Regions from separate parts of the Homo sapiens genome. Here region 1 is linked to region 2. A link means that fine-mapping ties the variant in region 2 to the plasma level of a protein whose gene starts in the linked region. Region 2 holds a variant in brackets. A gene starts in the other region. All regions are shown on their forward strands.

What was found. A credible set is the group of variants that fine-mapping cannot tell apart. PIP is the posterior inclusion probability: the model's chance that the variant is causal. The UK Biobank Pharma Proteomics Project read protein levels with antibody pairs (Olink). The fine-mapping took linkage between variants from a reference panel, not from the people measured, so its PIPs are less certain.
Region 1: it holds the start of CTSZ, and the variant in region 2 is the best candidate, but not a certain one, in a credible set for the plasma level of the CTSZ protein (UK Biobank, PIP 0.85).

Annotation. Positions count from the first base shown.
Region 1 is chr20:59,004,502-59,008,040 of GRCh38, forward strand. CTSZ (cathepsin Z) reads right to left here and starts at 2,753. Exons shown (of 6, transcript NM_001336.4): 1 at 2,485-2,753; 2 at 1,821-1,984. The coding sequence starts at 2,627. RefSeq lists enhancers at 187-236, 247-306, 547-856, 2,005-2,816, 3,497-3,539 and a silencer at 2,437-3,036.
Region 2 is chr13:41,111,293-41,116,811 of GRCh38, forward strand. No RefSeq gene overlaps it. Among named protein-coding and RNA genes, the nearest start is that of MIR3168, 13 kb to the left of the region's middle. The variant T/TG (reference allele first, on the strand shown) is at 2,416.

The DNA.
Region 1 (3,539 bases), not on the chromosome of region 2:
AGGGTAGAGAAGAGGAAGTGGAGGGACTCCAGATACTTCCCTAGGGAGCCCAGAATTGGGGCGGGGTGGGGCCGGGGGCTTTGTGTTCCTTTTTTCCAGGTGGGAGAGCTTCCCTGAGTGGGAAGGGACGGGCTCAGTGAGGGGACAAGACAGTTGATCCTGGGGGAGAGGAGGGAAGACAAATGGAGGACCTGCTGCCTTGGCTGGCAAATGGCCAGGGCCCCGTGGAAGTCCCCTTCTGGTGGCTTCTATTCCTCAGTGAAAGAGGAAGCGAGTGCCTGGGCCTGGGTGCGCTGAGAAGGAGGTTTCAGGAGAAAGTGGGGTGAAGCAGTCATCCGCCCAGAGAGAGTCCCCTGGGGAAATGCGGCAGGGCTGACCCCTGGCCAGGGTCCCACATCCATCTGAAAGCCATCTCCTTTCTACCCGCAGTCCTTCACAGACGCACATCTTGTCACCTGACTCCCTCTCAAAGAGTTCAAGGCTTCCCACAGGCACCTGTTGACCTTTCTATTCTCCCCTCACCCTCACCCCACCCTCAAAGGCTCTTTCACTTCCTCAGCGGGTGCCAGGCCTGGACACTTCCCCTAGACTCTGCCCAGTCCTCTGCCTCTAGCCCCACCCACACCCTGCAGCCCGCCCAAGGTCTCCCAGACCTTCCAGCTCCATCCACATCAAAGGGACCTTTGAACGATCAGAAGTGTGTTCCAGCCCCCGGGGGAGACGCCACGGATGCCACAGCTTCAGCTGGCTGGCTCTGGGGTCCAGACCCTACCCCCAGAGCAAGAACCCCTCATTCACAAGACTGAGCCCATCAGACATCCTGGCACAAAGCCCAGGCTTCCGGGCTCAAATCTCAGCTGTCACTCACACTATGCTCAAGCCTCCCCATCTCTCTGCAAAAAGCCTGCTTCCTCATCTGCAAACTGGAAGCAATCATGGCATTGAGGAGGCGTCAGTGAGATGGAGCACACGCAAACGCATGTCCCCCAGCCTTGGCCCACAGCGGCAGCCACACTGTAGTCTATCCTTTTCACATGGGTGTACAGCAGGCCTGACCCATGAGGACCAAGGCCAGGGAAGAGGCAACAGCACCACAGTGCTCATGGGCCAAACTCCCAGGCCACGCAAGTCCCATCTCCAGGGGAAATCCAGGCTCCTGGACCCTGTGCTGTGACTGGAGAGGGGATAGCAGAGTCCCTTCCAAATGCTGTGGGGTGGGCCTGGGGCTGGTTTGCAGCTGTCCCTTCTCCCGCCTTCTCTCCCAAAGCAGGGTGCAGCAGCCTCGTTGATAGGGAGGGCCTTAGTTTCCCCTTCCTCTTTGCTAAGAGCCTCCCTACCCTACTCCTGCCAAAAGCCTAAGATAGAAACCCACCAGGCTGGAGGTAGTGACCAGGTTAGGCCATGGGCTGTAGCCAACTAGCCTCACCCAATATTCCAAGCCCAGGACAGGCTTTCATCTGTGCTGAGAAGCAGTTTACTTCTGTATCCTCAAATACAGCCTGGGGACTCAGTGATTTTGCATTTCTGTTTCTATCCCAATGGCTGAGGTCACAAGCTTTGGGGGAGAGAGGGCACCTGGCAGCCACTTGTCACTGGGATTCAGTCCTAGTCCTGCCTGTCACCCAAAAGCCCCAGAATGACCCAGCTTGGGTCACCTCAGCAGAGGGCAAAGGCCCGCGCTCCTCGGCCTTAGCACCCCAGCCCAGGCTGACCTGGCCTTGAATCACAGGCCCCTGGAACCGCGGGCTGAGCTGCCTGGGCCTATAAACAGGCAGCCGGGATGGGCTTTCCTGGCCCACAGTCAAAGGGCGGCCACTCACCCGCCATAGCGCTGGTGCTGGCGTGGGCCCAGCAGGAGCCGCAGTATTGGGGGATGTGCTGGTTCCGGGTGATGCTGGCATAGTTGACACCATCCACATTGCGCCAGTCCCAGCTCTTGGGCAGATCCGCTGGGGACAGGTACTCATGAGGCCGGGGGTATGTGCTGAGAAGAGATCATCCCCACCCAGATCGGTGCTGGGGCTCCCGGGGGCCGTGGGCCCAGGAAGCCCTCGGTAGGGCCCTCCCGCCTTTCCCAACACCTGAGGGCATGGGAGTGGGGCCACAATCACCAGAGGTGAGCCAGGTGTGGGCCCACCTCACACTAGGAGGCTCCAGCGCTCTCAGAATGTGAAGGAGGCAGGGCACCCCCGAAAGGAGGGAACCGGGTTGCTCCCCCAGCCATGCCGCGCCGTAAGGGCCACCCCCAGAGGCCGAGGAGGTGGGGCTGGCCTGGCTTTCTGGCCAGGTGGGGCTTGTCCAACCCCACAAACATCAGGGCTCACCCTGGATGTGGAAGAGAAGGAGCGACCCCCAAAACGAAGCGGCTGGATCTGACCTTCCAAGGCCTGTTGGCGACGCAGGGCCCCCAGGAGGCAGAGCGCGCGCCTGGCCCGGGCGATGGGCCTCCCGTCCCCCCAGGGCTGCCTCCCCGCCGGTGCCCACCTGCGCCCCAGCGGAGCCAGCCCGTCCCCCCGCAGAGGCCGGTAGCAGGTCTGTCCCCGGCGGAAGTAGAGGCCGCCCTGCGCCGCGCCCGCCAGCAGCACGAGCAGCAGAAGCGGCCGCCACCCTGGCCCGCGCCTCGCCATGGCCCCGCGCCGGCTCCTGGGTCCCGCTCCGGATCCCGCTCCGAGTCCCAGATCCCGCGCCGGCTCCCGCTCTGGATCCCGCCCCGGCCTCGGCCTCGGCCCAGCACCCGGCCGACCCCGCACTTTGGGCCCCTGCCCCGCCCGGCCCTTAAGGCTGCGGCGGCCAGGCCGGGACACTCCCCCGGGGCGGGGCTGTCCCATCGCTGCTCCTGCCCCGCCCGGTGACCCCTGCCCTCCCCGCCCGGCTCCGCGCCCCGCTCCCTCCCTGGCTCCGGGGCACCTGAACTCGCGGGCCAGGCGCGAGGTCGCCGGGCAGACCCCAGCCTGACCCCGCCGCCGGCCGCCGCCCTGAGCGCGGGACTGTCCGGCTGGACTCATTTGCCGGGGTTCCTGGCTTCGGGGTGGGGGGCCGCAGGCTCATGGGCCCCCTTGGCCCTGCATTCCTGGGGCCCTGAGCCCTGGGGAGAGGCCCCCAGCCTCACATCTGGGCCCAGGCCTCCCCTAGGAAGGGATCCTGGGATGCGGCCACCGCCCCCAAAGAAGGGTCCCCGCGCCTGGCTTTCTAAACCCCTTTTCCCAAAGGCCCAGGCCCTTTCGGGGGGACGGTTCCCTTTTGCAGAGAAGGAAGGAGGGATCCTTCTAGAAAATGCCCCAAAGGAAGATTCCACTTGGCGCAGGCATCAGGAGTTATCCAATGTGACTTCCAAAGACGCCTTGAAAAGGTTTTCTGCTAACGAAACTCTTCTTAGTCAAATGAGGAACCAAAAGCAGAAGTGGCCCCCCAGGACGTGGTTTTGTAACTGGGGGAGGGCTTCTCGCTCCCTGCGGCCCCTCTGTTTGTCATGGCCCTTGGGCCCACACCATGGCCTTCTTCTCTGGTAAGAACAGGGCCCGGCATTCTGGGCTGCGACC
Region 2 (5,519 bases):
GATTGCCTGAGGTCAGAAGTTCGAGACCAGCTTGGCCAACATGGTGAAACCCCATCTCTACTAAAAATACAAAAATTAGCTGGGCGCAGTAGCACGTGCCTGTAATCCCAGCTACTCAGGAGGCTGAGGCAGGAGAATCACTTGAAACCGGGAGACAGAGGTTGCAGTGAGCCGAGACCATGCCACTTCACTCCAGCCTGGGTGACAGAACAAGACTCTGTCTCAAAAAAAAAAAGAATTAGCTGGGCATGGAGGCACACACCTGTAGTCCCAGATACTCAGGGAGCTGAGCCGGGAGGATTGCTTGAGCCTGAAATGGGGAGGTCGCAGCGAGCCGAGATTGCGCCACTGCACTCCAGCCTCGGCAACAGAGCTGGGATCCTGTTAAAAAAAAAAAAATTGTGAGGATGAGTCAGAGGTATAAAGATGAGCCAGAAAGGCAAGCAGTGAAAATGTATAAAGAAATTTATAAGCTATTTTAAGTAAATTGGACTTGTACCTGATTGCTATGGCCAGCCAATTAAAGATTTTAATCAGTGAAGAGACATGATCAGATTTGTATTTTATCAAGATCACTCTGGCTGCAACATAAAGCAGGGTCTAAAATATTTTTATTTTTGTTCTTTGGACATAGTTGGTGGTCTGGTAAAGCCTACAGATCCCATCTTGAATAATTATTTAAATGCCTAAAATAAAATGTGTAGGAATACACACAAAAAATGAAATTAGCAAAATAATTTCATTCACAATAGCCTCAAAAAGAAGAAAATACTTGGGAATAAAAGAAGTATAAAATTCATACTCTTGGCTGGACATGGTTGTTCATGCCTGTAATCCCAGCAATTTGGGAGGCCAACTGGGAGGACCGATTGAGCCCAGGTGCTTGAGGCCAGCCTGGGCAACATAGCGGGACCTTGTCTCTACCAAAAAAACAAACAAAAAAATTAGTCAGGTATAGTGGTGTGCACCTGTAGTCCCAGCTACTCAGGAGGCTGAGGCAGGAGGATTGCCTAAGCCCAGGAGGTTAATGCTGCAGTGAGCCAAGATCGTGCCACTGCACTCCAGCCTAGGTGACAGAGTGAGACCTTGTCTCAAATAAATAAATAAAATAAAATTAGTACCCTGAAAATTACAAATTATTGTTGAAAGAAATTAAGGAATACCTAAATTAATGAAGAATAGACCATGTTCATGGATTGGAAGACAATGTTGTTAAAATGGAAATATTCCCCAAATCGATCTACATTCAAAACAATCATGATCAAAATCCTACTTGATCCTAAAATTCATGTAGAAATGCAAGGGATGAAGAATAAGTCACAATAATCCTGAAATAGAAGCACAAATTTAGAGAAGTTCCTGATTTCAAACTTTTACAAAGTTACAGTAATCAAGACATTGTGGTGCTTGGGATAAGAGTAGACACATAAATTAATGGAATAGAACTGAGACTCCAGAAATAAACTTTTCTTTTTATGGTCAATTGAATTTTAACAAGGGTGCCAAGACCATTCAACGGGGGAAAGAATAGTCTTTTCAACAAATGGTCCTGGAACAAGTAGATATCCACATGCAAAAGAAATGAAGTTTGACTCCTTCATAACACCATACACAGAAATTAACTCAAAATGAATCATAGACCTAAATGTAAGAGGTAAAACTAGAACACACAGAGAAGTTGTAGGAGAAAATGTCCATGACCTATGTTAGGGAAAGACATGACAATGGGCTGTGTGTTGTATCTCCTGCCTGTAATCCCAGTGCATTGGGAGGCCAAAGCAGGATGATTGCTTGATGCCAGGAGTTTGAGACTAGCTTTAGCTACATGGTGAGCTTGTGTCTACAAATTTTTTTTTTAATTAGCCTTGTGTGGTGGTGCATGACTGTAGACCTAGCTACTTGGGAGGCTGAGGCAGGAGGATCACAGTAGCCCAGGAGTCTGGAGTTACAGTGATCTATGATTGTGCCACTGCACTCTAGCCTGGGTGGCAGAGCAAGACATTGTCTCATAAAAAAGAAAAAAAATTAAAATTTAAAAAGGAGAGGCATGACACCAAAAGCACAAACAATGAAAGCAAAATATATTGGACTTCATCAAAATAAAAAACGTTTGTGCTTCAAAGAACACAATAAAGAAAGTAAAAATGCACGGTGTATTAGTCAGCTGGACCTGCCATAACAAAACGTCACAGACTGGATGGCCTAAATAACAGAAAGTTATTTCCTCACAGTTCTGGAAGCTGGAATACCAAGACCAAGGTACCAGCAGGTGTGTTTTCCTCTGAGGCCTTTCTCCTTGGCTTGCAGATGGCCACCTTCTCTCTGTGTCCTCACATGGCCTTTCCTCTGTGCCAGTGCATTCCTGGTGTTTCTTGTGTGTCCTAATCTCCTCTACTTTTTTTCTTTTTTTTTTTT[T/TG]GAAACGGGGTCTCCCTCTTTCGCCCAGGCTGGAGTGAAGCGGCGCACTGCTCACTGCAACCGCTGCTCCGCCAGTTCAAGCAATTCTGCCTCAGCTTCCTGAGTAGCTGGGATTACAGGCGCCCACCAACACACCCAGCTAATTTTTGTGTTTTTAGTAGAGATGGGGTTTCACCATGTTGGCCAGTTGGTCTTGAACTCCTCCCAAAGTGCTGGGATTACAGGCGTGAGCCACCATGACCGGGCCTCCTCTTCTTATAAAGACACCCTACTGGCTTCATTTTAACTTAATTACCTCCTTAAAAGTATCTCCTAATACAGTCACATTTGTACTGGGGTTAGGGTTTCCTTCATTTCCACCAAACGAAGATGTGTAAGTTAAATATGGTATATCCATGCAATGGAATATTAGACCATACAAAGGAATGAAATATTGATACATGCCAAAGCATAGATGAACCTTGAAAATATTATGCTAAGTAAAAGAAGCCAGATACGAAAGATCATATATTGTATCATATTCTATAATTCAGTTTATATAAAATATCTATAGAGACAGAGTAGATTAGTGGTTGCCTCAGTCTGAGGGAGGGGGTGAAGCTGAGAAGAAATGGGAGGTGACTGCTAATGCATACAGGGTTTCTTTGGGAGTGATGAAAAATAATGTTTAATTGTCATAATGATTGTACAACTCTGTGAATATACGAAACATTAAACTATATACTTTAAATAGGGAATTATATGATAAGTCAATTTTTTTTTTTTTTTTTTTTTTGAGACGGAGTCTCGCTCTGTCGCCCAGGCTGGAGTGCAGTGGTGCGATCTTGGCTCACTGCAAGTTCTGCCTCCCGGGTTCACGCCATTGTCCTGCCTCAGCCTCCCAAGTAGCTGGGACTACAGAGGCACGCCACCACGCACAGCTAATTTTTTTGTATTTTTAGTAGAGACGAGGTTTCACTGTGTTAGCCAGGATGGTCTTGATCTCCTGACCTCGTGATCTGCCCGCCTCGGCCTCCCAAAGTGCTGGGATTACAGGCATGAGCCACCGCGTCCAGCCATGATATGTCAATTGTATCTCAATAAAGCTATTAAAAATACATAGGATTACAAACAAATCCAATTATTTTAAAATACAGTTTTCAAAAAAGAAGTTTTTTTTTTGAGATGGAGTCTCACTCTGTTGCCCTGGCTGGAGTGCAATGGCGCGATCTGGGCTCACTGCAACCTCTGCCTCCAAGCAATTCTCCTGCCTCAGCCTCCCGAGTAGCTGGGATTATAGGTGCCAGCCACCAGGCCTGGCTAATTTTTTTAATATTTTTTTTTTAGTAGAGATGGGGTTTCACCATGTTGGCCAAGCTGGTCTCGAACTCCTGACCTCAGTTGATCTGCCCACCTCAGCCTCCCAAAGTGCTGGGATTATAGACATGAGCCACTGCGCCAAGCCTAAAATATTTTAAAAGCATAAGATAGTATTGAGCCAGGCGTGGTGGCTCATGGGATTACATGCCTGTAATCCCAGCACTTTGGGAGGCTGAGGCGGGTGGATCACCTGAGGTCAGGAGTTCGAGACCAGCCTGGCCAACGTGGTGAAACCCCATCTGTACTAAAAATACAAAATATTAGCTGGACGTTGTGGTGGGCGCTTGTAATCCCAGCTACTAGGGAGGCTGAGCCAGGAGAATCGCTTGAACCTGGGAGGTGGAGGTTGCAATGAGCCAAGATCGCGTCATTGCACTCCAGCCTGGGCAACAAGAGCGAAACTCTGTCCCAAAAAAAAAAAAAAAGATAATATTATATGTGCTTCTTTATACATAAGAAGATCTAGATCTAGCAGTAGGTCTTATCAATAACTACCATATTTCAGAGAACCAATGAATATAAATGATAATTTGAGATATTTGCAACAACTGCAACATGATATAAAATATTTACAATTTCTTTCTTTTTTTTGAGATGGAGTCGTACTCTCACCCAGGCTGGAGTGCAGTGGCTTGATCTTGGCTCACTACAGCCTCTGCCTCCACCTCCCAGATTCAAACAATTATCCTGCCTCAGCTCCCCAAGTAGGGTGGGGTGCTACAGGCACCTGCCACCACACCCAGCTAATTTTTGTATTTTTAGTGGAGATGTGGTTTCACCATGTTGGCCAGGCTTGTCTTGAACTCCTGACCTCAAGTGATCCGCCTGCCTCGGCCTCCCACAGTGCTGGGATTACAGGTGTGAGCCACTGTGCCCAGACTTGAAATATTTATAATTTCTATTGTTAGTAAAGTTACAGGTAGTGCTAATATTATTGTGGCTTATTGCTTACATTCATAAAAAGGAAATACTAAGTTTTAGTTATAGATTAGTGAAAATAAATATATATTTTTTCTCAACAAAGTTCATGAGCCCTCTGAATTCTACCTACATACTTTGGTGTGGGGGGGGGGGGTCTTCACACTCCATGTAATAAACCCTGAATTAAAGAAGAAACCAGATAGAAGGTTATTATAGAAGCCCAAGCCAGCATATATGTGGGCTAGTGTGAAGACAGCGGGGATAGGGAAAAGTGGGGAGCATGTAGCTGTATTTTGGGAGCCAAGTAAGTAGAGTTTAGTGATTGAATGGATGTGGATGGTGAGGCAGATGGAGGGAAAGATGATGTCTGGGCTCCTGCCATGTATCTGAGTGGACTTCCATCAAAACAGGAAGCATGGAAAGAGAAGCAGCTTCTGGGAAGTGAGACTAGGTGAAGAAAAAGAGATCTGTTTGGAATATGCTTATTACAGGCAGAGCTGTGGAACAAGATAACTGAATATATGGTTCTGGAGCTCAGAAGAAAAGATGAACTAGAGATACGGATTTGGGAGACATCAACATTAACCACGCTTGAATGCAGTGGCACAGAGAGAAGGAGAAATATAGAGAAAGAAGATGGCCAAAGCAGGAGCTAGAGGGTCAGAAACGTTCAAGGGAAGAGAAGATTGACTAGAAGGCAGAATAGATGTTGGAGATGGAGCAGAATCAGAGAAGAAGGAGGAAAGCCAGGAGAGTTGATTCCTAGCACCAGACAGATGCAGGGCTCACCTACAAAATTATACAGTTGTTTTATACACGTAGTT